Linked DNA regions of Homo sapiens: all the other regions are linked to region 1. Evidence: fine-mapped expression QTL. A gene starts in region 1. Each other region holds a variant in brackets. All regions are shown on one strand. Distances are from middle to middle.

The links.
Region 2: its variant is fine-mapped to the expression of CAPN12 in whole blood (INTERVAL, PIP 0.99).
Region 3: its variant is fine-mapped to the expression of CAPN12 in whole blood (TOPMed, PIP above 0.99). The same link has a PIP of 0.9 or more in T cells and blood mononuclear cells.
Region 4: its variant is fine-mapped to the expression of CAPN12 in whole blood (TOPMed, PIP above 0.99).
Region 5: its variant is fine-mapped to the expression of CAPN12 in whole blood (TOPMed, PIP above 0.99).
Region 6: its variant is fine-mapped to the expression of CAPN12 in whole blood (TOPMed, PIP above 0.99).

Annotation. Positions count from the first base shown.
Region 1 is chr19:38,742,860-38,746,944 of GRCh38, forward strand. It overlaps CAPN12 (calpain 12), which reads right to left and starts at 1,615. Exons shown (of 21, transcript NM_144691.4): 1 at 1,070-1,615; 2 at 174-243. The coding sequence starts at 1,306.
Region 2 is chr19:38,685,891-38,689,890 of GRCh38, forward strand. The region is part of intron 1 of ACTN4 (actinin alpha 4); the gene reads left to right. Among named protein-coding and RNA genes, the nearest start is that of ACTN4, 40 kb to the left of the region's middle. RefSeq lists an enhancer at 86-145. The variant C/CAA (reference allele first, on the strand shown) is at 2,500.
Region 3 is chr19:38,705,280-38,709,279 of GRCh38, forward strand. ACTN4 (actinin alpha 4) reads left to right here. Exons shown (of 21, transcript NM_004924.6): 5 at 765-852; 6 at 2,838-2,916. All of the region lies in intron 1 of LOC107985291 (a long non-coding RNA gene), which reads right to left. Among named protein-coding and RNA genes, the nearest start is that of CAPN12, 37 kb to the right of the region's middle. RefSeq lists enhancers at 1-105, 2,525-3,311. The variant C/T (reference allele first, on the strand shown) is at 2,065.
Region 4 is chr19:38,562,525-38,566,694 of GRCh38, forward strand. RYR1 (ryanodine receptor 1) reads left to right here. Exons shown (of 106, transcript NM_000540.3): 91 at 2,435-3,247. Among named protein-coding and RNA genes, the nearest start is that of MAP4K1-AS1, 32 kb to the right of the region's middle. RefSeq lists a silencer at 3,088-3,157. The variant C/T (reference allele first, on the strand shown) is at 2,179.
Region 5 is chr19:38,639,204-38,643,373 of GRCh38, forward strand. No RefSeq gene overlaps it. Among named protein-coding and RNA genes, the nearest start is that of ACTN4, 6.4 kb to the right of the region's middle. RefSeq lists an enhancer at 462-1,400. The variant G/A (reference allele first, on the strand shown) is at 1,706.
Region 6 is chr19:38,695,634-38,699,633 of GRCh38, forward strand. All of the region lies in intron 1 of ACTN4 (actinin alpha 4), which reads left to right. Among named protein-coding and RNA genes, the nearest start is that of CAPN12, 47 kb to the right of the region's middle. The variant T/A (reference allele first, on the strand shown) is at 2,185.

The DNA of each region.
Region 1 (4,085 bases):
AAAAAAAAAAAAAGGAAGGAAGGAAGGAGGGAGGAGGGAGAGAGAGGCCTAGGGAGAGAAGAGACTGAGGAGGGATCCAGGGGCCGGGAGTGGGTGGACAAAGGGATGGAGCTGTCAGGATCTCAGCTGAAACTAGCTGGATCTGAGGACTCCAGGTGGGTTCAGGGTCTCACCCAGGCTCCCCTGACACACGTCTGTGCGGCTCATGTCTTCACAGATGAACTTCGGCTCAGCACAGAACTCCTGTGGGTGGTGGGGGATTCCAGGCCTCAGCCTGAGAAAGCGAGGAAAGGTCTCATCCAGAGGAGTGAGGGCCTCCAAGCCCATGAAAGGCCTGGAAGCCTGTGGGCAGGAGCATGGCTTCCCTGGGTCTCCAGAAGTTGTGCTGAGCCAGTCCCATGGTAGCCCCCTCCTCCCTCAGACCCGGGAGTCCAGGCCCAGCCCCTCCTCCCTCAGACCCAGGAGTCCATGTCCCGAGCCCCTCCTCCCTCAGACCCAGGAGTCCAGGCCCAGCCCCTCCTCCCTCAGACCCAGGAGTCCAGGTCCCGAGCCCCTCCTCCCTCAGACCCAGGAGTCCAGGCCCAGCCCCTCCTCCCTCAGACCCAGGAGTCCAGGTCCCGAGCCCCTCCTCCCTCAGACCCAAGAATCCAGGTCCCCAGCCCCTCCTCCCTCAGACCCAGGAGTCCAGGTCCAGCCCCTCCTCCCTCAGACCCCGGAGTCCAGGTCCCCAGCCCCCTCTTCCCTCAGACCCAGGTGTCCAGGCCTTGGCCTCTCCTCCCTCAGATCCAGAAGTCCAGGTCCAAGCCCCCTCCTCCCTCAGACCCAGGAGTCCAGGTCCCCAGCCCCTCCTCCCTCAGACCCAAGAGTCCAGGCCCAGCCCTTCCTCCCTCAGACCCAGGAGTCCAGGCCCAGCCCCTCCTCCCTCAGACCTAAGAGTCCAGGTCTCGAGCCCCTCCTCCCTCAGACCAGGGAGTCCAGGCCCCCAGCCTTCCTTCCTCAGACCCAGGAGTCCATGCCTCCAGCCCCTCCTCCCTCAGACCCCAGAGCCCAGACCCCAGCCACACTTTACATGGGGCCTCATCCATTTCACGCCTTTGGCCTTCTCCGAGTCCGGCCCCAGCTGGTCATAGCCAAGGGCATCAGGGCCAGCAGGGAAGTAAGGGTCGCGGAACAGGATCCCCGAATCCAGGCAGGCTGCCCGAATTGCCTCATAGCTCTGGCCCCGAAAAAGCTGCAGGCGCCCGGCTCCGACCCCAGCCTCCTCATCCACGAGCTGGATGGTGACCCTCCCACTGCTGGATGCCATCTGGACACTGGCCTCACAAGCCGGCACCAGGCCCTTTAACCTCCTGAGTCACGGGGGCGGGGCCTCTCTTCCATTGGAGCCCCAGTGGGGTCTTTAGGCAATGAGGAGCCTTCCCTCGTTAATATTAATTGATGGTTTGGGGTGCTGGGGAGCAGGGACGCCTCTTCAGTAGCTTTCTTCCCAGGGCGTGGGGCCTTCAGTTGTGGCCAAGGTAGCAGCTTAATGGGCTTGGCCAGCAGCAGGAGAGAAGGCGGGCAGAGCTGAGGGAGGACCGGCTGCCGCTGTCAGAGCACCAAGAAGGAGGTCAGTGTGGGGGTGAGCTTCTGCCTACTTATGCCTGTGGGGCTGGGGAAGGAGGCGGGTTTACCTCGGTGTCTCTATCTCTCAGACTGCCTCTCTCCCCCTCCCTCTGACAGTTTCTCTCTCCCCGCCTTCATGTTTCTTCTCCATCAGTTTCTGGAGTGCAGTGGCACGATCTCAGCTCACTGCAACCTCCGCCTTCTAGGTTCAAGTGATTCTCCTGCCTCAGCCTCCCAAGTAGCTGGGATTACAGGCTCGTGTCACCATGCCCAGCTAATTTTTGTATTTTTTGTTAGAGAAGGGATTTTACCATGTTGACCAGGCTGGTCTTGAACTCCTGGCCTCAAGCAATCCGCCCACCTTGGCCTCCCAAAGTGCTGGGATTACAGACGTGAGCCACTGTGCCTGGTCAGGTTTTGTTAATTAAAAAAAATTTTTTTTAAAGTAGAGACAGAGGGGTGGCGGGGGGCGGTCCCATATGTTCCCCAGGCTGGTCTTGAACTGCTGGCCTCAAGTGATCCTCCTGCTTCAGCAGCCTCCCAGAGAGCTGGGATTACAGATGTGAGCTACTGTGCCTGGCCCTTTCTTGTTTTTTGTTTCTGGCAATATTTGTGTCTCTGTATTTCCCCAACTCCACCCCTCTCCCCACCCCACCCTCTTTTTTTTTTTTTTTTTTTTTTTGTAGAGATGGGGCGGGGATCTCACTTTGTTGCCCAGACTGGTCTCGAACTCCTGGGCTCAAGTGATCCTCCCCGCTTGGCCTCCCAAAGTGTTGGGATTACAGGCGTGAATCACTATGCCTGTCCCCTCTCTCTTTGTGTCTCTTTCAGCGTGTGTCTGTTCCTCTCTGTACCTGTCAGACCCAGGAGTCCAGGCCCCCAGCCCCTCCTCCTTCAGACCCTGTCAGTGTACCTTGTGTCTGCCTCCCTGTCTCTTCCTCTCCATCTTTCTGTCTGTCCCTGTAACCCATATGTGGCTCCTCCATCATCCACCGAGGGACCCTGAGCTCCCCTCCGCTCACGCCCCCTAAGCCCTCAGGATGCGCCTCCTCCCCTCCCGGACAAGGTAGACTCAGCCTGCTTGCCCAGGGAGGCTGACCCTGGAGGGATGGCTCTGTACCTCTCCTGTGCTGGGAGCCATCTGGTGACCATGATGCCCTGCCCTGGCCCACGCCACTCAGAGTCTGGATGGAGCAGTATTTCCCCCAAAGGACTCTGGAGCCATTGGAGGAAATGGGAGAAACAGGTACGGAGATGCCAGAGCCTCAGCAGTGCTGGTCCCAGCAGACCTTCCACCCTCGTTGAGGGTGTCTGCTGCCCTCCCAGAGCCTTGTCACCTCCACGCCACTCAGATGTCCCTCAAGCCTTTTGGCCTTCTTCCCTCCAAGTGGACCCACAAATATTGTCCAAGCCACCCACGTACACGGCTACCAAAAGTGGGTTACAAAACAGGCTTTCTGGCTGGGCGTGGTGGCTCATGCCTGTAATCCCAGCACTTTGGGAGGCCGAGGCAGGCAGATCACCTGAGGTCAGGAGTTCGAGACCAGCCAGGCCAATGTAGTGAAACTCCGTCTCTACTAAAATACAAAAATTAGCCGGACATAGTTGCGGGCACCTGTAATCCCAGCTACTCAGAAGGCTGAGGCAGGAGAACCGCTTGAATCTGGGAGGCGGAGGTTGCAGTGAGCCGAGATTGTGCCACTGCACTCCAGCCTGGGCAACAGGGCAAGACTGCATCTCAAAAAACCCCCCAAAACAGGGCCGGGCATGGTGGCTCATGCCCGTAATCCCAGCACTTTGGGAGGCTGAGGTGGGCAGAACACTTGAGGCCAGGAGTTCAAGACCAGCCTGGCCAACATGGTGAAACACCATCTCTATTAAAAATACAAAAATTAGGCTGGACGCGGTAGTTTACTACGCCTGTAATCCCAGCACTTTGGGAGGCCGAGACGGGCGGGTCAGGAGTTCCAGACCAGCCTGGCCAACATGGTGAAACCCCATCTCTACTAAAAAATACAAAAAAATTAGCTGGGTGTGGTGGCACGCACCTGTAATCCCAGCTACTCAGGAGGCTGAGGTAGGAGAATCGCTTGAACCCGAGAGGTGGAGGTTTCAGTGAGCCAAGACTGCACCACTGCACTCCAGCCTCGGCAAGAGAGCAAAACTCCATCTCAAAAAAAAAAAAAAAAAGGCCGGGCACGGTGGCTCAAGCCTGTAATCCCAGCAGCACTTTGGGAGGCCAAAGCAGGCAGATCACGAGGTCAGGAGATCAAGACCATCCTGGCTAACACGGTGAAACCCCATCTCTACTACAAAAAATACAAAAAATTAGCCAGGCATGGTGGCGGCCACCTGTAGTCCCAGCTACTCGGGAGGCTGAGGCAGGAGAATGACGTGGACCCAGGAGGCGAAGCTTGCAGTGAGCCGCCACTGCACTCCAGCCTGGTTGACAGAGCAAGACTCTGTCTCAAAAAAAAAAA
Region 2 (4,000 bases), 57 kb before region 1:
CTTACCACGATTAAAGATTACTCCAGGGCCTCGCATATTCACCCTTCCACCAGCAGGGCCCAGTTTACGGATCATTTGAATACTAGCAAAAAAACAAGCCATCTGCTGGAGAGATTGAACAGAGGGAGAAACAGGAGTGTTTGCCCTGCTTCCAGACACCCCTTTCCTGTGGCAGTTCCTGCACCTGGCAAGATCTACTGGGGAATTCCCGGGGTCCCACTAGCTCAGGACGGGTGTGTAGCACTTGCCTAAATAACAATCCCATCAGTGCCCTGTCTGACCTTTTCTCCCCAAATGCCAAAGGCCTCTTGTCTGGATGAACAAATCCCTGGGCGGATTTGTCCAGACTAAAACGTTAATTCTAAAGACTGGGCCCCTTAGGCACTCGCTAAGATTCCAGGCCACACTGTCTCAAGGCCAGAATTGGCTTACTTGGCTATCTTTTTGAAAGATCAAAGTTTAAACCAGATGATCTGTAGTCCCCCACCCCCACCCTGAAACCTGAGCTTAGCTGTAAGCATTGAAAGTAAATGGGGTGTTTGTAGCTCACCCTCCCTGTTCTCCAGGTGAAGGGCCCCGTGTGCCTGATCATTTCATAGCAAAATGCTAGATGGGGCCAGAGGAGGCCCCAGCCTCTGCTGCTGCCCTAATTTTAAAACTGCCTTTTGGGAGTGTAAGTTTCCTCTGTTAAAGGTAGTTATTTCAAGGTAGGCCTCACCATCTCCTCCTCCTGGTGAGAAGCTCTGCCTGGAGGGCTGAGCACTGCCTCCCGCTCTGTGGGCCCCACCTGCCTTGGGTTGAGACCTATCTCTTCCTGGACTCTGTGTGGGGAGTGCAGGCTCTTCCCCTTGGGGAGAACCCAGTTCTTTGACGTATAATCTGAGTGGTTTGGGTTGGTTGGTTGGTTGGTTGGTTGGTTTCCCATGTGTGGGATGGCTCCGGAAGTCTGTTTGAGAACAGAGGCAGGCTCAGATGGGAGCAGCTCCTACCCCGGGCCGCCTATCCCCCTTTACCCTGGGGTTTCTTTTAGCTCCAAGCATCCATTCCAGTCTAACAAATCTGGTGGCAGAGTCTCTTTTTTTTTTTTTTTTGAGACAGAGTCTCACTCTGTTGCCCAGGCTGGAGTACAGTGGCACAATCTCGGCTCACTGCAGCCTCCGCCTCCTGGGCTCAAGCGATTCTCTTGCCTCAGCCTCCTGAGTATCTGGGATTACAGGCGTGTGCCACCACGTCTGGCTAATTTTTCTGTATTATTAGTAGAGACGGCTGGTCTCTACTAATAGTTCAAGACGGCTGGTCTTGAACTCCTGACCTCAAATGATCCACCTGCCTCAGCCCCCCCAAAGTGCTGGGATTACAGGCGTGAGCCCCTGCACCCAGCCCCTCTGGTTCTACTGAGACCTCAGATCTTTCATTTATGGAACAAGGGGGTTGGATTAGATTGTTCGCTCTCAGCCCTCACTTCATGTTAGACTCACTAGGTGGACTTTGTCAAATGTCATTGCCCAGGGCCCACCTTGAGGGAATCTGTCTCATTTTGCCTGTGGTGAAATTCAGGTATTTTTAAAAAGCTCCCAGGTCCCATACATCTATTGTCAATTGATTTTCAACAAGGGTGCAGGACCATTCAATGGGGGAAAGAATAGTGTTTTCAACAAATAGTGCAGGAACAACTATTAATAGATACCCATCTGCAAAGAATGAAGTTGAACCTTTACCTCACACCATATACAAAAATTAACTCCAAACGGATCAGATACCTAAATGTAAGAGCTAAAACTGTAAAACTCTTAGAAGAAAACACAAGTGTAAATCTCATGACCTTGGGTTAGGCAATGGTTATTAGATATGACAGCAGAAACACAACCGAAGAAAAATAGATAAATCAGACTGTTTCAAAACTGGAAACTTTTTGCTTCAAAGGACACTATTAAAGTAAAAGGACAACCCGCAGAATATTTACAAATTGTATATCTGATAAGGGTCTACTGTCCAAAATGTATAAAGGACTCTTAAATTCAACAGTAAAAAGACACACCAGTTAAAAATGGGCAAAGGATTCAAATAGACACTTCTCCAAAGAAGATCTACAAATGGTCAATAAGCACATGAAAAGGTGTTCGATGTCATTACTAATTAGGGCAAATCAAAACCATAACCACTACAAATGGTCAATAAGCACATGAAAAGGTGTTCAATGTCATTACTAATTAGGGCAAATCAAAACCATAACGTGGTTGGGCCTGGTGGCTCATGTCCATAATTCCAACATTTTTGGAGGTAGAAGTGGGAGGATGGCTTGGGGCCACGAATTGGAGACCAGCCTGGGCATCATAGTGAGACCCTGCCTCTACAGAGAATTAAAATAAAAAATTAGGCCGGGTATGGTGGCTCATGCCTGTAATCCTAGCACTTTGGGAGGCCGAGGCGAGTGGATCACCTGAGGTCAGGAGTTTGAGACCAGCCTGGCAAACATGGTGAATGAAACCTTGTCTCTAC[C/CAA]AAAAAAAAAAAAAAAAAAAAACCCACAAAAATTAGCTGGACATGGTGGTGGGCGCCTGTTGTCCCAGCTAGTGGGGAGGCTGAGGTGGGAGAATCGCTTGAACCTGGGTGGGAGAGGTTGCATTGAGCCGAGATCACGCCATTGCACTCCAGCCTGGGCAACAGGGTGAGACCCTGTCTCTAAATAATAATAAAAATGAGAAATTGGCCAGGTGTAGTAGCATATTCCTGGGAGGCTGAGGTGGGCAGATTGCTTGAGCCCAGGAGTTCAAGGCTGCAGTGAGCTATGATGACACCACTGTACTCCAGCCTGGGCAACAGAGTAAGACCCCAACCCTAAAACAAAAAAAAACAGAAAACCACAATGAGATACCACTGCACACCCACCATGATGGCTATAATCAGAAAGTCAGATAATAAGTATTGACTAGGATGGGAGAAATCAGAACCCTCACATTGCTGGTCAAAGTGTAATGTGGTGCAGCTTCTTGGGAAAACAGTCTGGCAGTTCCTCAAAATTTAAACATGTTTTGTATTTTTAGTAGAGACGGGGTTTCACCATGTCACCCAGGCTGGTCTTGTCTCAGCCTCCCAAAGTGTTGGAATTACAGGCATGAGCCACCACGCCCAGCCAAGTTCCTCAAATTTTTAAATATAAGAGGTATCATATGACTCAGCAATTTTACTCCTAGGTATATGCCCAAGGCAGTTGAAAACATGTCCACATAAAACTTGTACATGAATATTCACGGTGGTGCTAATATCCAAAAGATAGAAGCAACACAAATAATGCCCATCAGCCAATGAATTGATAAATAAAATGTGGTATATCCATACAATGGAATGTTATTCAGACAGGAACGAAGTACTGGTACATGCTACAACATGGCTGAACCTTGAAAACATGCTAAGGAGAAGCCAAACTCAAAGATCATATACCATATGGTTCCACTTATATGAAATGCCCAGAATAGGTAAATTGCAAGAGACGAAAGAAAGGTAGGTTAGTGGTTGCCAGGGGCTGGGGGCTGGGTAGGAGGGAAGTGGGGTTGGAGAGTAACTGTACCAGTTTTGCGGTGGTAGACATGTTCCTTGTATTTTTGGTTTTTTGTTTTGTTTTGTTGTTTTGAGATAAGGTCTCACTGTCGCCCAGGCTAGAGTGCAGTGGCGCTGTCATAGCTCACTGTAGCCTCGAATTCCCAGGCTTAAGTGTTCCTCCCACCTCAGCCTTCTGAGTAGCTGGGACTACAGGCAAGAGTCACCATACCCAGTTAATTTTTAATTTTTTTTTTCTTTTTCTTTGAGATGGAGTCTCGCTCTGTTGCCCAGGCTGGAGTGCAGTGGCGCGATCTTGGCTCATTGCAACCTTTGCCTCCCGGGTTCAAGCGATTCTCCTGCCTCAGTCTCCTGAGTAGCTGGAACTACAGGCGTGCGCCACCATGCCCGGCTACTTTTTGTATTATTAGTTAGAGACGAGGTTTCACCATGTTGGCCATGAGAG
Region 3 (4,000 bases), 38 kb before region 1:
TGGGCTAGGATGGCTGGGCCCGTTTTACAGTCCAGGAACCCAAGTCCCAGAACAGACTAGTGAGAGAGTTGGGCCTGGGCCTGGTTCTCTGTCTGCTTGACATCCCCATCCTTGAAACTTGGCCCCCATGGACCCGTTATGAGCTCAGGCCGTCCAGGAATGGACAATTTCGCTTCCCTGCAAGCACCTGTGTGCACACAGGATGGGCAGAGCCACCTGGGCTAGCGTGCAGGGGCTCCCAGGTGCCAGGTCGCAGTGATGACTGGGAGAGATGTGCTTCCTGCCCTCGAAGGGCTCCCGGTCTGTGAGGACAGCCGAGCTATCCACGGGGAACAGAAGGGCCCCCTAGGCCTCTCTACAGCTGGTATTTCACCTTGTTCAAAAGAGGCCAAGGCCGGTATCAAGGGCCTGTCTGCAGTGTGTTCTGGTGGTGAAAGGCACAGGCTTGGTGGCCAGGCACATGGCACAGATTCAGGCCCTGACACCACCACCTCCTGGGGCAGCCCTGGTCAAGCGACTCTCCTCGGGGCCGTGAGGATTAAGCAGGGCCGTGTGTCCTGGCAGTTGGGCCTGGCAGCATCCGTCTGCATCCGGAATGGGAGTGGCTGTCCCGCTGCTATCACTGCTGCTGTTGTTAGGACAGATATCCTCTCCCCTTGGGTTTCGTTTGACCCCAGGCCTGAGCCGAAAGTCCCATCCAACTTGGGCTGAGTTCTGAGGGTTTATTTTTGAGCCAGTGCTCACTGTCTTTGTGTGTTTTGCAGAGACCTCGGCCAAGGAAGGGCTCCTTCTCTGGTGCCAGAGAAAGACAGCCCCGTATAAGAACGTCAATGTGCAGAACTTCCACATCAGGTAAGCGCCAGTCCTGGTCATCCTCTCCTTTCCTCTAGGAACCTGAGATCCTTCCTCCCACCTGCCCTGTTTGCTGTGTTTTTGTCGTGGTCTGTGAGATGCCAGCCCTCAGTCAGCCCCTCCCTGGCCACGGGCCCTACAAGCCCATGGGAAGGTCACCTGGTCCTCTCTGAGGAAGAGGAGGCAGTTTCCCAGCCATCCTGGCTGAAGGCAGTAAGGTCAGCCCTCTCGCCGGCCTAATAGAACGTTCTTCGTCCCCAGGCAAGGTGACTCTCAGAAGCAACAATAAAGCTTTTCATTTTTGAGACAGGGTCTTGTGCTGTCACCCAGACTGGAGGGCAGTGGTGTGATCACTCATCCCTGCTGCCTTGGCCTAGGCTCAAGTGATCCTCCTGTCTCAGCCTCCCAAGTAGCTGGGACTGCAGGTGCATGCAGCCACACCTGGCTAATTTTTAATTTTTATTTTTAGTAGGAACAGGGTCTCCCTATGTTGCCCAGGCTGGACTTGAACTCCTGAGCTCAAGCAGTCCTCCTACCCCGGCCTCCCAAAGTGCTGGGACTACAGATGTGAGCCACTGCCTGCCTCTGGCCTCTTCCTTTATTTTGACAGCTCAGGAGTGAATTGTTTTTAGAATTGCTAGTAAATTTAGTGTTGGGGAAAAATGTACTCTGTGGCTGCTAAGATGAACAAGCCTCAGCTCCACCATGAACCTGCTTCCCTCAGGGTGAGCGGGAGATGAGACATGTCCACCATCCCCGTAGCTGAGGCGAGCATGGGCACTGCCGCATGAGGTCCAGGGGGCGGCAAGAGGCAGGCCTGCCTGGTGGTTGGGAGCACTGGCTCTGGGGGCGGTCCTGAGGTCAGATCCGGTTTGCCTTGTGGCTCCACCCTCTGAGTCTCCTGGATGGCCCGCACAGGAATGAAGAGCAGGGCCTCATGGGGTTTGCAGCGGCCTCAGGCTCTCTGGGACCCTTGCTGGGTACAGAGGGCTTTTCCCATCGTGCTCACCCTGATAGCATGTGGTCCCTCCCTTGGTCACTCTTCTCTGTGTGTCTTCTTTTTTTTCCTGCCACTAACTGACTGAATCTTTCTATAGTTTCCATTCATTTTCTTCAACTAGTAAGTATCTAGCATGCCCGCTGCATGCCGTTAGTGGAGATACAGTGGCACCCAAACAAAGTTCCCATTTGTGGGAAGTTTACACCACAGCG[C/T]GGGGACCAGCTGTTAGCACAGCGGCCAGTAATCCTGCAGCATAACTTCAGTGAGAAGTGCTGCACAAAGACAGGGAAGTCAGATGAAGAAAGTTCCCTGGGTGGCCTTTCTGAGGAGGTGACATCGAGCTTGACCTCAGAGGGAACCAACCCTTAGAGGGTCTCAGGGAGGAGAATGTGACCCATATAGCTTGTAACTGACCAACTTGTGGCCTTGGGGAAGGTCTCTTTCCTCCAGAGACCAGCATGCCAAGTGAAATCCTGGCATTTAGCCAGCCCACGGACTGGCCTTCCTGTAAGTCAGGTCCGCCAGGGTGTGGAGGCCACACAGCACAAACACCAGCATCCTGCAGTGGCCACCTCCCCCGAAGCGGCCTGTCTGGTTCAGGGCGGCCTCCCATGGAAGGTGCTAGCAGTTATAAAGCAGTTGTCAGGAGTCAGGCACTGATCCAAGCATTTACTCATTTAATCCGCACAACAGCCCTATGTAGCAGGTATGTCACTATCCCCATCATACAGATGTGGAAACCGAGATAGCCTGGCTTACCCGAGGTCACACTGTCAGTAGGCAGAAGAGTCAGGATTTGATCACAGACTGCCTGGCCCCAGAGGTCATGCTTGCAGCCTCTCTGCCACACTGTCTCCATGCAGTGCCTGGCACAGGCCAGACTGCAGTGAATGGGAATTAGTCACTGCTGTGGGTGCACAGGGCCATACGGCACTCTCATGACAGTGAGCGGGCCCTCCTATAACCTTTGCCTTTCCTTCCCCAGCTGGAAGGATGGTCTTGCCTTCAATGCCCTGATCCACCGGCACAGACCAGAGCTGATTGAGTATGACAAGCTGAGGAAGGTGAGTGTCTCCAGCTCCCCTTGATGGCCCACAGACGTGCCCTGTCTGACCCCCTAACTCCGGGTCACCATCCCCATGCCCTTCCATCGCCAGCCTCCAGATCTGGGTTCTGCACGCAGATGGGCAGCCTGGGAGAGCCTTGTGCAGGCTCTCCGCAACCCCTGGCTCGGTGGCTGACTCTCACCTCCCTTATTCCCCTCGTGGACTGTCCAGTCTCCCTCCATGGCACTGCAACCAACCCGGGGTTATTTAAGGGCCTGGCCAGCCATGCTTTATAACTCCCCTTCCTCAATCTTCTGGATTCTAGAACCTCCTCTGCCCAAAGGGGCAGAGGGCAAGGAATTCCAAACCATCACCACAAGCCCATGTTGCCCATGCAGGGTCCTGCTGTCATTTGCCTGTACAAAGCCTGTATGGATCCAGGCCCTGGCCACCAGAAGCTGCCAGCCTCGTGGGGGAAGGCAGGACAAAAATTGTGTCCAAAGCAAAGCACCACACCAGGCCGTGTACATGTGCTCAGGCTGAATGGGGTGGCAGGGCATGGGGTCAGATCAGTGCTGCGGAGGAGGCTAGTGTACCCCGAGCGAGCAGGAGCCAGGAAAGGTCCCGGAAGAAGAGGCAGCTTAGAGCCAGAGGAGGGCTTCCTGGGGGAGGCACCAGATGGCACCCAGCCCGTTCCAGCCACAGTGAGCAAGAGAGCTGGGCCCCGGCCAGGGAGAGTTGGAGTGCAGTGGGCTTTAGTCCTGTAAGCAGTGGGGAGCCTGTGAGGGGGCTGGGGGACACTTTAGGGTGGTTGGGACCTGGGACCTCTCGGTTTGCTCCCCTTACCCAGTCCCCAGTGCTCTCTCAGGCCTGGCCCACATCTTCCAGTCAATGTGAAAACCAGGTTTTAGGGCAAGGGGCTTAAGCTAGGGTCTGTGGGTGGCTGGAAATTGTATGAAAAGAGTACACCTGCATTTTTCTGGAGAAAAAGCCCTGGTTTGCCCCACAAAGATTTCACGAGGCACTCCTGTGAGTGGGAATTGAATTTATCCAGGCGGTGCCCTCCCGCTCACACATCACACGTGGCTGAGAACTGCCTGAA
Region 4 (4,170 bases), 180 kb before region 1:
TCACCTCCTTCATGAGTGGGCCCTTCATATGTCTCCTCAGGGGACACCAGCTCATGCACGCGGGCTCATGTCCCACACAGAGCCCTGTCCTCATGTTCTGGGAGCCAGTACACAAACCCTTGGCTCCCCTTCCCACATTCATGCCTGCCTCACGCACACTGCATAACTGCAGGCCCCTCTCACACTCATACTCCTCCTGTCCCCCCACAGAGTCCCAGGCCCTTGCACACCTGCCCCGTGTGCCCACGTCCACCGTGCACACTGAGCCTCTCGTGGTTGCACACTTTTGGCATCTTCCCATGCCGCCACGCCCTCCTTACTCCTGATCCCTCCCTGGCCCCCGGTGTCTCCTCACATACTCCGCAGGAACCCTTGAGATCTTGCACACTCATCTGTGCCCCTCGGGGCCCCACTGCATACACACCCCCATCTGGCACACAAGTGGTTGCAGCATCCTGGCACCCAGGATGTCCACACATCCCTGCCTCTGCAGGAAGCCCCTGTTCACCACGGCCCTTCCCACTCATTCTTTGCACGTGCTGGGGGAGCTCTGCCCTCCTCTCTTCCTCTGACCCTGCGTGCTCCCCATACAAACACTCTTTGCCTTAGTGCTATTCCTCCAAACACCCGCTTCCTTCTGCTCACCCCTTCCCATTCCACTTTCCCCTGCTTCTCAGGCATCCACGTATGCCCATGTGGCCTTGGAGCACCTGTGGGGCAGTATAATAATAGGTAACACTACGGTGTTGTTGTTGTTTGAGACAGAGTTTCGCTCTTGTTGACCAGGCTGGAGTGCAATGGCACGATCTCAGCTCACTCAACCTCCACCTCCTGGGTTCAAGCGGTTTTCCTGTCTCAGCCTCCTGAGTAGCTGAGATTACAGCCATGTGCAACCATGCCCACCTAATTTTTATATTTTCAGTAGAGGCGGGGTTTTGCCATGTTGGCAAGGCTGGTCTTGAACTCCTGACCTCAGGTGATCCGCCCGCCTCGGCCTCCCAAAGTGTTGGGATTACAGGTGTGCGCCACCGTGGCCTGCCCACTATACAGCATTTATCAGGCACCGGGCGCTGTTCTAATCATGCAGCATCTATTAACTCATTTAACCCTCACACCAACCCTATAATGTAGGTCCTATTATGCCCATTTTACAGAGGGGAAAACGGAGGTCCAGAGAGTTAATTCAAAATCACCCAGCTACTCAGTGGCAGAATCAGGATTTGAACCCAGGCAGGCTGGCTGCAGAGCCTTTGCCTTTAAGCACTATGCTCCTCCTCTCAAGGAAGCTAAACACATCCATTCTGGAGCCAGCTCTCTGGGGGTTCGAATCCTATATGTGCCACCTTGTCTGTGTCACCTGGGCATGTAACTTTCTGGGCCTCCCTGTCCTCATCTATAAAATGGGAAGAAAACCCGCTAGCCCTAGGCTTGTTTGTGAGGATTAAATGAGTTTTATGGAAACTGCTTGTATGGGGCCTGGCCTTATTGAAGCATTTACAGGAGTACCCACAGTGAGTGCTCTCTATAAAGCTCTCTCTATAGGTTTGCTATTGATAATCAAAACAACAACTTGGCCAGGCGCTGTGGCTCCTGCCTGTAATCCCAGCACTTTGGGAGGCCAAGGCCAGAGGATTGCTCGAGGCCAGGAGTTCGACACCAGCCTGACCAACACAGACAGACCCTGTCTCTGCAAAAAAATTTTTTTTAGAAATTAGCAGGCCAGTCATGGTGGCTTATGCCTGTAATCCCAGCACTTTGGGAGGGTGAGGCGGGCAGATCACTTGAGGCCAGGAGTTCCAGATCAGCCTGGCCAACATGGCAAAACCCTGTCTCTACTGAAAATTCAAAAACTCAGCCCAGCATGGTGGCAGGCGCCTGTAATCCCAGCTACTCAGGAGGCCGAGGCATGGGGATCATGTGAACCCTGGGGACGAAGGTTACAGTGAGACAGCGTCACTTCATTCCAGCCTAGGAGACAGAGCTAGATCTTGTCTTTTTTTTTTTTTTTCTTGAGACAGACTTTCACTCTGTTGCCCAGGCTGGAGTGCAGTGGCACGATCACAGCTCATGGCAACCTCCGCCTCCCGGGTTCAAGTTATTCTCCTACCTCAGCCTCCCGAGTAACGGATTACAGGGGTGCGCCACCACACCGGCTAATTTTTGCATTTTTAGTAGAGA[C/T]GGGGGTTTCACCATGTTGGCCAGGCTGGTCTCGAACTCCTGACCCCAAGTGATCTGCCAGCCTCAGTTTCCCAAAGTGCTATGATTACAGGCGGAGCCACCGCGCCCAGCCTGACCCTGTCTCAAAAACAAAATACCAACAATGCATTTAGAACAGCGCCTGCCGCGGTGACCCCTTGTAGCTGCCACTGCGCTGTCGCTGCTGTCCGAGCCCCCGCTGACGGCGCCCTATCCTGTCTGCCGCCCCTCGCTTCAGGTGAAGGAGTCCAAGCGCCAGTTCATCTTCGACGTGGTGAACGAGGGCGGCGAGGCTGAGAAGATGGAGCTCTTCGTGAGTTTCTGCGAGGACACCATCTTCGAGATGCAGATCGCCGCGCAGATCTCGGAGCCCGAGGGCGAGCCGGAGACCGACGAGGACGAGGGCGCGGGCGCGGCGGAGGCGGGCGCGGAAGGCGCGGAGGAGGGCGCGGCGGGGCTCGAGGGCACGGCGGCCACGGCGGCGGCGGGGGCGACGGCGCGGGTTGTGGCGGCCGCAGGCCGGGCCCTGCGAGGCCTCAGCTACCGCAGCCTGCGGCGGCGCGTGCGGCGGCTGCGGCGGCTTACGGCCCGCGAGGCGGCCACCGCAGTGGCGGCGCTGCTCTGGGCAGCAGTGACGCGCGCTGGGGCCGCTGGCGCGGGGGCGGCGGCGGGCGCGCTGGGCCTGCTCTGGGGCTCGCTGTTCGGCGGCGGCCTGGTGGAGGGCGCCAAGAAGGTGACGGTGACCGAGCTCCTGGCAGGCATGCCCGACCCCACCAGCGACGAGGTGCACGGCGAGCAGCCGGCCGGGCCGGGCGGAGACGCAGACGGCGAGGGTGCCAGCGAGGGCGCTGGAGACGCCGCGGAGGGCGCTGGAGACGAGGAGGAGGCGGTGCACGAGGCCGGGCCGGGCGGTGCCGACGGGGCGGTGGCCGTGACCGATGGGGGCCCCTTCCGGCCCGAAGGGGCTGGCGGTCTCGGGGACATGGGGGACACGACGCCTGCGGAACCGCCCACACCCGAGGGCTCTCCCATCCTCAAGAGGAAATTGGGGGTGAGAGAGCAGGCGGGGTTTTGGGGTTTTGGAAAGATGGGGGATTGGAGGGAGGAAGAGAGCCCGGCTGGGTGGAGACACACACAGAGGAGAGAACTGGCTAGGGGGATGGGCACACGCACCCACGGAGGACGCACCCATGGAGGACGCACACGGGGACAGCGGGCGCCGGGCAAGAGAGACGCTCAGAGACAGAGGGATACTCAGACCCACAGAGAAAGAGACTCAGAGATGGAGACCTGGAGAAAGGGCCGGGGAGAGAGAGTGCAGGGCCGGACAGAGTGCAGGGCCGGACAGAGTGCAGGGCCCGGAGAGGTAGAGAAAATGATACCTGCAGAGCCAGAGAGAGTAAGAAACCCAGAGACCAAATTAGAGGGCAGGAAAGACCAAAACTAAGCCAGGCGCGGTGGCTTACACCTGTGATCCCAGCACTTTGGGAGGCCGAGGCGGGCCGATCACCTGAGGTCAGGAGTTTGAGACCATCCTGGCCACCGTGGTGGAACCCCGTCTCTACTAAAAATATAAAAATTAGCCGGGCATGGTGGTGTGCGCCTGTAATCCCAGCTACTCGGGAGGCTGAGGCAGGAGAATCGCTTGAACCCGGGAGGCAGAGGTTGCAGTGAGCCAAGATGGTGCCACTGCACTCCAGCCTGGGCGACAGAGCGAGACTCTGTCTCAAAAAAAAAAAAAAAAAAAAAAAAAAAAAGGAAAAGAAAGACCAAGACTAAAAAAAGTCCCGAGACAGGGTCAGGGCCACTAGGAAAAGACCCTCGGAGATACTCGTTGTGGGAATGAAGTACACCGTGGAGGAAGGGACCCCAAACATCCTCAGGCCCTTGGTGCTGGGAATGCCTTGGGAATGTGGAGGTCAAGGTGGTGGGAAGCCCTGGGGACAAGCAGAGCTGCACTTGGAGTCAGCCCGA
Region 5 (4,170 bases), 100 kb before region 1:
GGAGGCAGAGGTTGCAGTGAGCCAAGATGGCGTCACTGCACTCCAGCCTGGGTAACAGAGTGAGACCCTGTCTCAAAAATAAGTAAGTTGGCCAGGCGCGGTGGCTCACGCCTGTAATCCCAGCACTTTGGGAGGCCGAAGTGGGCAGATCACGAGGTCAGGAGATCGAGACCATCCTAGCTAACACGGTGAAACCCCGTCTCTACTAAAACTACAAAAAAATTAGGCAGGCGCCTGTAGTCCCAGCTACTCTGGAGGCTGAGGCAGGAGAATGGCATGAACCCGGGAGGCGGAGCTTGCAGTGAGCTGAGATCGCACCACTGCACTCCAGCCTGGGCGACAGAGCTAGACTCCGTCTCAAAAAAATAAATTAAAAAAAAAAAGTAAGTAAGTAAAAATTAGCCAGGCACAGTGGTATGTGCCTGTAGTCCTGGCTACCCAGGAGTTTGAGGCTGCAATGAGCTATGATTGCACCACTGCACACCAGCCCAGGTGACAGCAAGACCCTGTCTCCAAAAAAGGAAAAGAAATGCCCTAATAGATGTTCATTACTTAGAGTAGACTGGCAGCTGCCCCTTGGTGATTTATTGATGGATGCTGGTGTGCATAAGCGTTGCCTTGGAGAGGGCAGCTGTGGTACCCAAGCTGCCAGCCGGCCTGACCTCCCTGTGTGCACTCACAGCCAGCATTCCTCAGAGGGCCCTGCCTGTGGGAGCAGACACCCCTTGCCCTGGGGCCCAGACCTCAGCAGGGCCCCAGTAGCCAGGGAGTGCCTAAATCCTGGGGACTGAACAAAAGTGTGCCTCTGCAGCTCACTGGGATAAAAAGGACTGGGAGGCCTGGCACAGTGGCTCATGCCTGTAATCCCAGCACTTTGGGAGGCCGAGGTAGGCAGATCACCTGAGGTCAGGAGTTTGAGAACAGCCTGACCAACATGGTGAAACCCCGTCTCTACTAAAAATACAAAATTAGCCGGGCGTGGTGGCGGGCGCCTGTATTCCCAGCTACTTGGGAGGGTGAGGCAGGAGAATCGCTTGAACCCGGGAGGCAGAAGTTGCAGTGACCCGAGATCGCGCCATTGCACTCCAGCCTGGGCAACAAGAGCGAAACTGCCTCAAAAAAATAATAATAAAAAGGACTGGGATGCCTCTACCACCCATGAACTTGGGCACATTAGCAAAAGGCACCCCTTCTGGGTGGGGACAACTCCCAGTTACCCACTTGGCAGGTGCCCTTATGCAGGATACAACCTGCACAATTGGCCATGGCTGCTCTGCAAGGGAAGAGGAAATGACCTTTTTCCCCTCCTCTGGGAGCCACATCTCATCCTGCCTCACTGGGCTGCTTTCACTATCAGAGGGTCATTCATACTCCGAACAGCTAGGAGGTGGCTCTGGAGAAAAACTGCCTGAGTTCACTCCCCAGCCCAGCCGCCTCAGGGTATGTGAGTTGTCTTCTCTGTACCTGTTTTACAGCTGGGGAAAGTAGTAATTGTACCCACGTCAGTAGTTAATGCCTGCAAAGAGTTTAGAACAGCTTGGTGGGTGCAGTGGCTCACGCCTGTAATCTCAGCACTTTGGAGGCCAAGGCGCGTGGATCATCTGAGGCCAGGAGTTCGAGACCAGCCTGGCCAACGTGGTGAAACCCCACCTCTACTAAAAATACAAAAATTAGCTGGGCTTGGTGGCGGGTGCCTGTAATCCCA[G/A]CTACTCAGGAGGCTGAGGCAGGAGAATAGCTTGAACCAGGGAGGTGGAGGTTGCAGTGAGCTGAGATCACGCCATTGCACTTCAGCCTGGACGACAGAGTGAGACCTTGTCTCAAAAAAATAAGCTGGGCGTGGTGTCTCACTCCTATAATCCCAGCACTTTGGGAGGCTGAAGTGGGCGGATCATGAGGTCAGGAGTTCAAGACCAGCCTGTCCAATATAGTGAAACCCCATCTCTACTAAAAAACACAAAAATTAGCTGTGTGTGGTGGCGCATGCCTGTAGTCTCAGCTATTCGGGAGGCTGAGACAAGAGAATCGCTTGAACCCGGGAGGCAGAGGTTGCAGTGAGCCAAGATCATGCCATTGCACTCCAGCCTGGGCAACAGAGTGAGACTCCGTCTCAAAAACTAATAATAAATAAATAAATAATAAATTAAAAAATAGCCGGGGCGCAGTGGCTCATGCCCGTAATCCCAGCACTTTGGGAGGCCGAGGCGGATGGATCAACTGAGGTCAGGAGTTCAAGATCAGCCTAACCAACATGGAGAAACCCCGTCTCTACTAAAAATACAAAATTAACCAGGCGTGGTGGCGCACGCCTGTAATCCCAGCTACTCGGGAGGCTGAGGCAGGAGAATCACTTGAGCCTGGGAGGTGGAGGTTGGGGTGAGCCGAGATCGCGCCATTGCACTCCAGCCTGGGCAACAAGAGCGAAACTCTGTCTTAAAAAAAAAAAAAATAGCCAGGCCTGGTGGCGCGTGCCTGTAATCCCAGCTACTCAGGACACTTGAGGTGGGAGAATTGCTTGAACCCGGGAGGTGGAGGTTGCAGTGAGCCAAGATTGTGCCACTGCACTCCAGCCTGGGTGACAGAGCGAGACTCCATCTCAAAATAAATAAATAAATAAATAAAAATAAAAGAAACTCAAATTGGTTCTGTCTCCAAATTCCATCCTGGTGGGTGCTTGTCATGCTCACTTGGGGTTCAGGGCTGCTGCTCCAGCTGCTTCCTGAGACATCTCTAGACATTGCAGTATTTGTTCATGTCCCCGCCCTGTGAGGACACACCCTCTCTAGTTGCCTTCCCTGAAGTAGTGTTAACAATGGGATACAGCATTTAATAAATTCTGACTGAGGTCTCACGGGTTCAATGGTAAACCTAAAAACGCCTGTAGGGCCCACTGGCCATACCCCTTCTCTCAGAGCCCCTCCTGGTCCCTTGGACATCAATAGACACATCAGCTATTATTACTACACTGCCCATAGATGGCTGCCAGGAAGTAGCCTCAAGGCTGACAATTAAAGGGAGGCTTTAATTTAAACTTCAATGGCTGGGGCTGTCGCCTCCATCTGGGAGCACTTGGTCTGGACGGTTTCTCAGAGTCCACCAGGAGCTGCAGCGAGGGGCAGATGGCCCATCCCCTGAGGAGTTTTTCCCCCAGGCCAGACCATGCATAAGAGTCCTGAGCTAGTTCTTCAAGTCAGGCTGGAGGAGACCGCCCTGCCCTGCCCCACTCCAGCCCAGCTCTGGAAACAGCCAACACGCCTGGGGGTCTTTGGCCAGGTCCTGGCATCTCCTAGGACATCGGGCTGCTGCCTGGGCCTCGTCCCCTTCCTCTGCTGTCACTGGATCCATCCCTTCGCGTTCCTTTGGCAGAGGCAGAGAAGCAGAGAAGGATCCTTGCAACTCCCATAGCTGGAGAAACCATAAACCATGGTGGTTGGTTTTTTTTTTTTTTTTTTTTTTTTTTGAGACAGAGTCTCCCTCTGTTGCCCAGGCTGGAGTGCAGTGGTGCGATCTCAGCTCACCGCAACTTCTGCCCCCTGGGTTCAAGTGATTCTCCTGCCTCAGCCTCCTGAGTAGCTGGGACTACAGGCGCGTGACACCACACCCAGCTAATTTTTTGTATTTTTAGTAGAAACGGGGTTTTACCATGTTAGCCAGGATGGTCTCGATCTCCTGACCTTGTGATCCGCCTGCCTCGGCCTCCGGAAGTGCTGAGATTACAGGCGTGAGCCACCGCACCTGGCAATATTTTATTTTATTTATATTTTTGAGACAGGTTCTCACTTTGTCACCCAGGCTGAAGTGCAGTGGTGCGATCTCAGCTCACTGCAACCTCGACCTCCTGGGCTCAAGTGATCCTCCTGCCTCAGCCCTCCAGGTAGCTGGGACCACTGGCATGCAACACCACACTTGGCTAATCTTTTGTATTTTTTGTAGAGACAGGGTTTCACCATGTTTGCCAGGCTGGCCTTGAACATCCCATGCCCGATGGGATGATATTTTAAATCAGGTGATCCGGGAAAGTCTCACTGAGGATGTGGTATTTCCACAGAGACCTATAGGAAATGGGGCTGTGAGCCCTAGGGACTCAGTGTCTGGGGAAAGTGTTCCTGGGAGTCGTGACTCCACCTCACAAGTACAAAGGCCTCATCAGAGGCTGAGTTTGGCACCTGGTGT
Region 6 (4,000 bases), 47 kb before region 1:
GCATGCCAGCCTCACTTCTTTACTCCCTTCCTTCTCGGAGTGGGCTCTGTCCCTTCTGCAGGAGGGCTTTGGCACATGCTCTTCCCAGTATCTGGAAGGTCTCCCTCATTTTTATCTTATTAACTCCTCATCCTTCAGCTCAGAGTTTGAGAATGACTTCTTCAAGGACACCTTTCTGTGTCTGCCTCACCAGTCGCTTGGTGCCCCCCCACCCCGCCACCATGCTGACCGCACTCTTCAGCTCCCATCCCAGGGGAGGTGACACAAACTCGGCCCCAGGAGCCCAGCACCTGGCTTTAAACCCAGCTCTGTAACTTTCTAGGTGTGTGACTGATGGGAGCAAGCCACTTCACCTCTCAGGCCCTCCGTTTCCTCATCTGCAAAATGGAGGCAGTACTAGCACCTCCCTCCAGAGATGATTACGAGGGTGACAGAATTAGTAAGTGACCAAGTGCCTCGAGCAGTGCCCGCCCCTAGTAGACTCTATGGAAGTGTCTGCTGCAGTTATTGCTGTTATTATTACCACTTTTCCTAAGGGCGTTATTTCTGGAGTGGACTGATCGCTTGATTAATGAGATCAGACCTGGAGCCTCATGAGAGTGTCTGCTTTTGCTCACTGTTATGGATTCAGCACAGGGCCTGGCCCTCTGCTGACCCCCAGCATATGCTTGTCCAGAGAATGAATATGTACGGACCCATGGTGGCCTGGGGCATCATGAGGTCGGCTGCCCACATTCTGAGAATTTTGCATGGTGGAGGGCGGCGTGGTGGGCGCATAGGGCCCCCATCTATAGAAACCACCTCTCCACACCATCCACCCCACGCAGCGTAGTCTAAACCGGGTAGGGAGAGGAAGGATGGAAGCAGAGTGTTATTTTTGTAACCAAGTAGAAGAAGCGATGAATTTTTAATGTCCCATTCGAACTCCAGCTCCTACTCACCAGTCTCTCCGCATGGAGAAGTGGCCGTCATGGTCGACCTGTTCCCAAGGGTGGCCTTGTGAGTGCAGGCTCTCCTCACCAGAGCTGAGGGCTTTGTGAACCTCTGATGTCAATAGATGCCCCTCATCTTCCAGGAGGACAAAACAGGGCAAAGCAAGACATGGGGTGAGAACAGGAGTGCATCAGTGGGGTTCCCCAAGCCTGTGTCAGGTCCGGATCTGGGTGGGAGTTCCCTTCTGCGTCATCCAGGCCAGGCGAGTGGGCATCCTCCCTGAGCACCTGTGCTTGGGGCTTTGCCTGTGTCAGTCAGGAAGACAGAGTACACGGAAGAGTTACCATTGCTTTCAGAGCAAACCTTCCTTTGACATGCATTTAACACAGCACGGAGTGATTGACATGTGTCCTTGTGTTTAATCCCTATCTTAACCTCTCGGTTACTGTCCTGTTTATCAGTGAGGAAACTGAGGCTTATTGCTTGCCTGAGGCCTCAGTGGCAGAAGCAAGATGTGAATCCGCACCTGTGTGATGCCCAAGCCAGAGCTCTTGTTTACTACCCAGAGAAGATGAGCACAGGTGGGATGTACGTATGGAGGGCGGGTAGGGCAGCAGCCCCTCTGAGGACAGGTGGCCAGAACCCAAGCGGCGAGGTTTGTTCACAGCCTCCACAGGGTGGGGTGGGGCCATCCGCAGAGGGTCTCCTGCCATCCCATTTTCCCTGCATACCAGTGGGTGGTCTGAGAGCCTTTGCAGAGAAGAGACTGGATCTCAGCACGTGCTTATGTGCGTGTGTACATGCACACACATGCGTGTGATTCATCTGGCTCTTACTTTATGCCAAGGAGCCTGTCACATGCTTTAAATGTATTTTCCCTAGTTTAATTCTTAGAGCACACTGCAGGAGGTAGATTCTGATAAATCCATCTTACAGGGAAGGAAACAGACTTAAGTAGGTAAAGTCACTTGGTTGAAAACATGGAATGAGTAAGCCAAGGGGCAGGTATTCAAACCCAAACCCAGGTCTGTGCCCCTGCAGAGCCTGCAGGAGCAGCCCACACAGGCCAAGGCTGTGAGGGGTGCTGTTTGCACGCGTGCGTGGCCCTCCCTGCAGCCCAGGTGCCTAGGTCTGGGCCTGGCAACACCAGAGCACGGGGCCTTGCCCTCGGGGAACAGCCCTCTTTTGTCCTCAGGCTGTGGGATGTGTCTTGGCTACTTTGCTGCCCAGCAGTGCCTGCTCTCAGGCACA[T/A]GTGAGAGTAGAGGCCTAGCATCCGTGGCCACTTCCTTCCCAGCCCATTTGCTGCTGCCCTTTGCTCTGCAGGGCTGCTGGGCTCCTGGGCTCCACGCCTGCTTGCTGCCTGCCATCAAGGCTGGCAGTGCTCTGGGGCTGTAAAGGTGCAGGCGCCGTACTTCCCAACCCCTGGAGCTCGCACATGGTAGGAGAGAAAGCTCATGTGCATGCAACATCCAATAAGACTAAAAGTGACTGGGGGTTGCTACGGGAGAGGTGCTGAGGGTGGGCCGGGGACAGAGCAGGCACACTGTGGAGGGGGTGGGCAGGACTCCTGAGACCAGGGCAGGGAGGGAGGAGATGCTGGGAGGCACAGGGCCATCCAGAGAGCTGCCACTTCCTGAGCATTGCCATGCACGCTGCAGGCATGGCCATCTTGAGTCCTCACACTGCCCGTGGCCTAGGTGGGGTCTTCATCCCCACGTTGCAGAGGAGGAAATGGAAGTTAGGAAGGTTAGGTGACGTGCCCACATGAGTGGTGTAAGCATGGTTCCCGCCCTGGGCTCTCTGAATTCAGTATTGTATGGGGGAGGCTGGGAAGGTGAGTTAGTACTCTCCGCAGTGAGAACCTGCCTTGGCTCCCCTCCCCTCAAGGAGTTCATAGCCGTGGGAGGGAGGGAGACAAGAACTGTTGGAGACAAGAACTGTTAGAGACCAGAGAGCAAGGGCGTGATGTGGTCTGCAGGGAGGAGGCTGTCTGAGGCAGAACCGGGTCAGGGAGGCCATGGTGCGGGTACCCTCCAGGCACGGCATTTGGCCTGACTTTTGAGGGGTGCCCAGGGTTGGCTACATGGCGGGGCGGAGGTATCTTTAGTGGGGGAACAGCGTTGTGCCACCAGGAGGGGTCTCTGTCTCCCAGGTAGAGGAATTCTCCATGGTGAGAGGTGGTGGTGGGGGATGGTCTAGCTGTCCACTCTTGCCCCCTTTCGGATTTGGAAGGAAGCCCCATGCTGGGTCCACACTGGTATGGCGTATTAATTAGGCAGCTGCTTTGTCTGGGAGGGGGCTTTGTGTCGAGTCTCCCTGAATGAGCAGGGCTGGCGACAGTTGTCAAAACACATGGTGCTTGGTCAGAGCCCCCGTAGAAGCCCCTTGTCCTCCGCATGGCCTCCGCCTGCACCCGGGGCGTGGAATGTGCTCTTGTGTGTCCCTGGCTGTCTGCTTGCTTCTACACTGGCCCCTGCAGATGGAGGGGGTGGGGTACAGGGGTTCCTATAAGAAGCAGACACTTGGGGTTTTTCCCAGGTCCTGTTGCAGGAGGGTGCGTGGGCTGGTTTCCCTGAAGGCGCCTGGGCGTGTTGGTGTTAACTGATCTGAGATCTTCTGTGGCCCTGATGTCTATGAGCATGCCCCAGCTTGCAGGGGGCTGAGTAGCCGGGCACCACCAGGAGGCTGCGTGCCCTGTGCTTGGGTGTACCCATGCCCTGTCAGCATCGTTGGTCTGTTAGGGTCAGGGACTTCGGCTTCTTGTTTAGTACCCTCCATCCCTTCCAGTTGATCATCAGAAACATTCTCCTTAGATGCGGCTGCCTGACCCCGGTGAGGGGGCCTGCCTCCCACTTGCCTTCCAGCCTCCTCTAAGCTGCACTGAGTCTTAAAAATAGGAAGGATAGGGCTGGGTGTGGTGGCTCACGCCTGTAATCCCAGCAGTTTGGGAGACCGAGGCGGGTAGATCACTTGAGGCCAGGAGTTCAAGACCAGCCTGGCCAACATGGTAAAACCCCATCTCTACTAAAAAGACAAAAATTAGATGGGCATGTTGGCATACACCCGT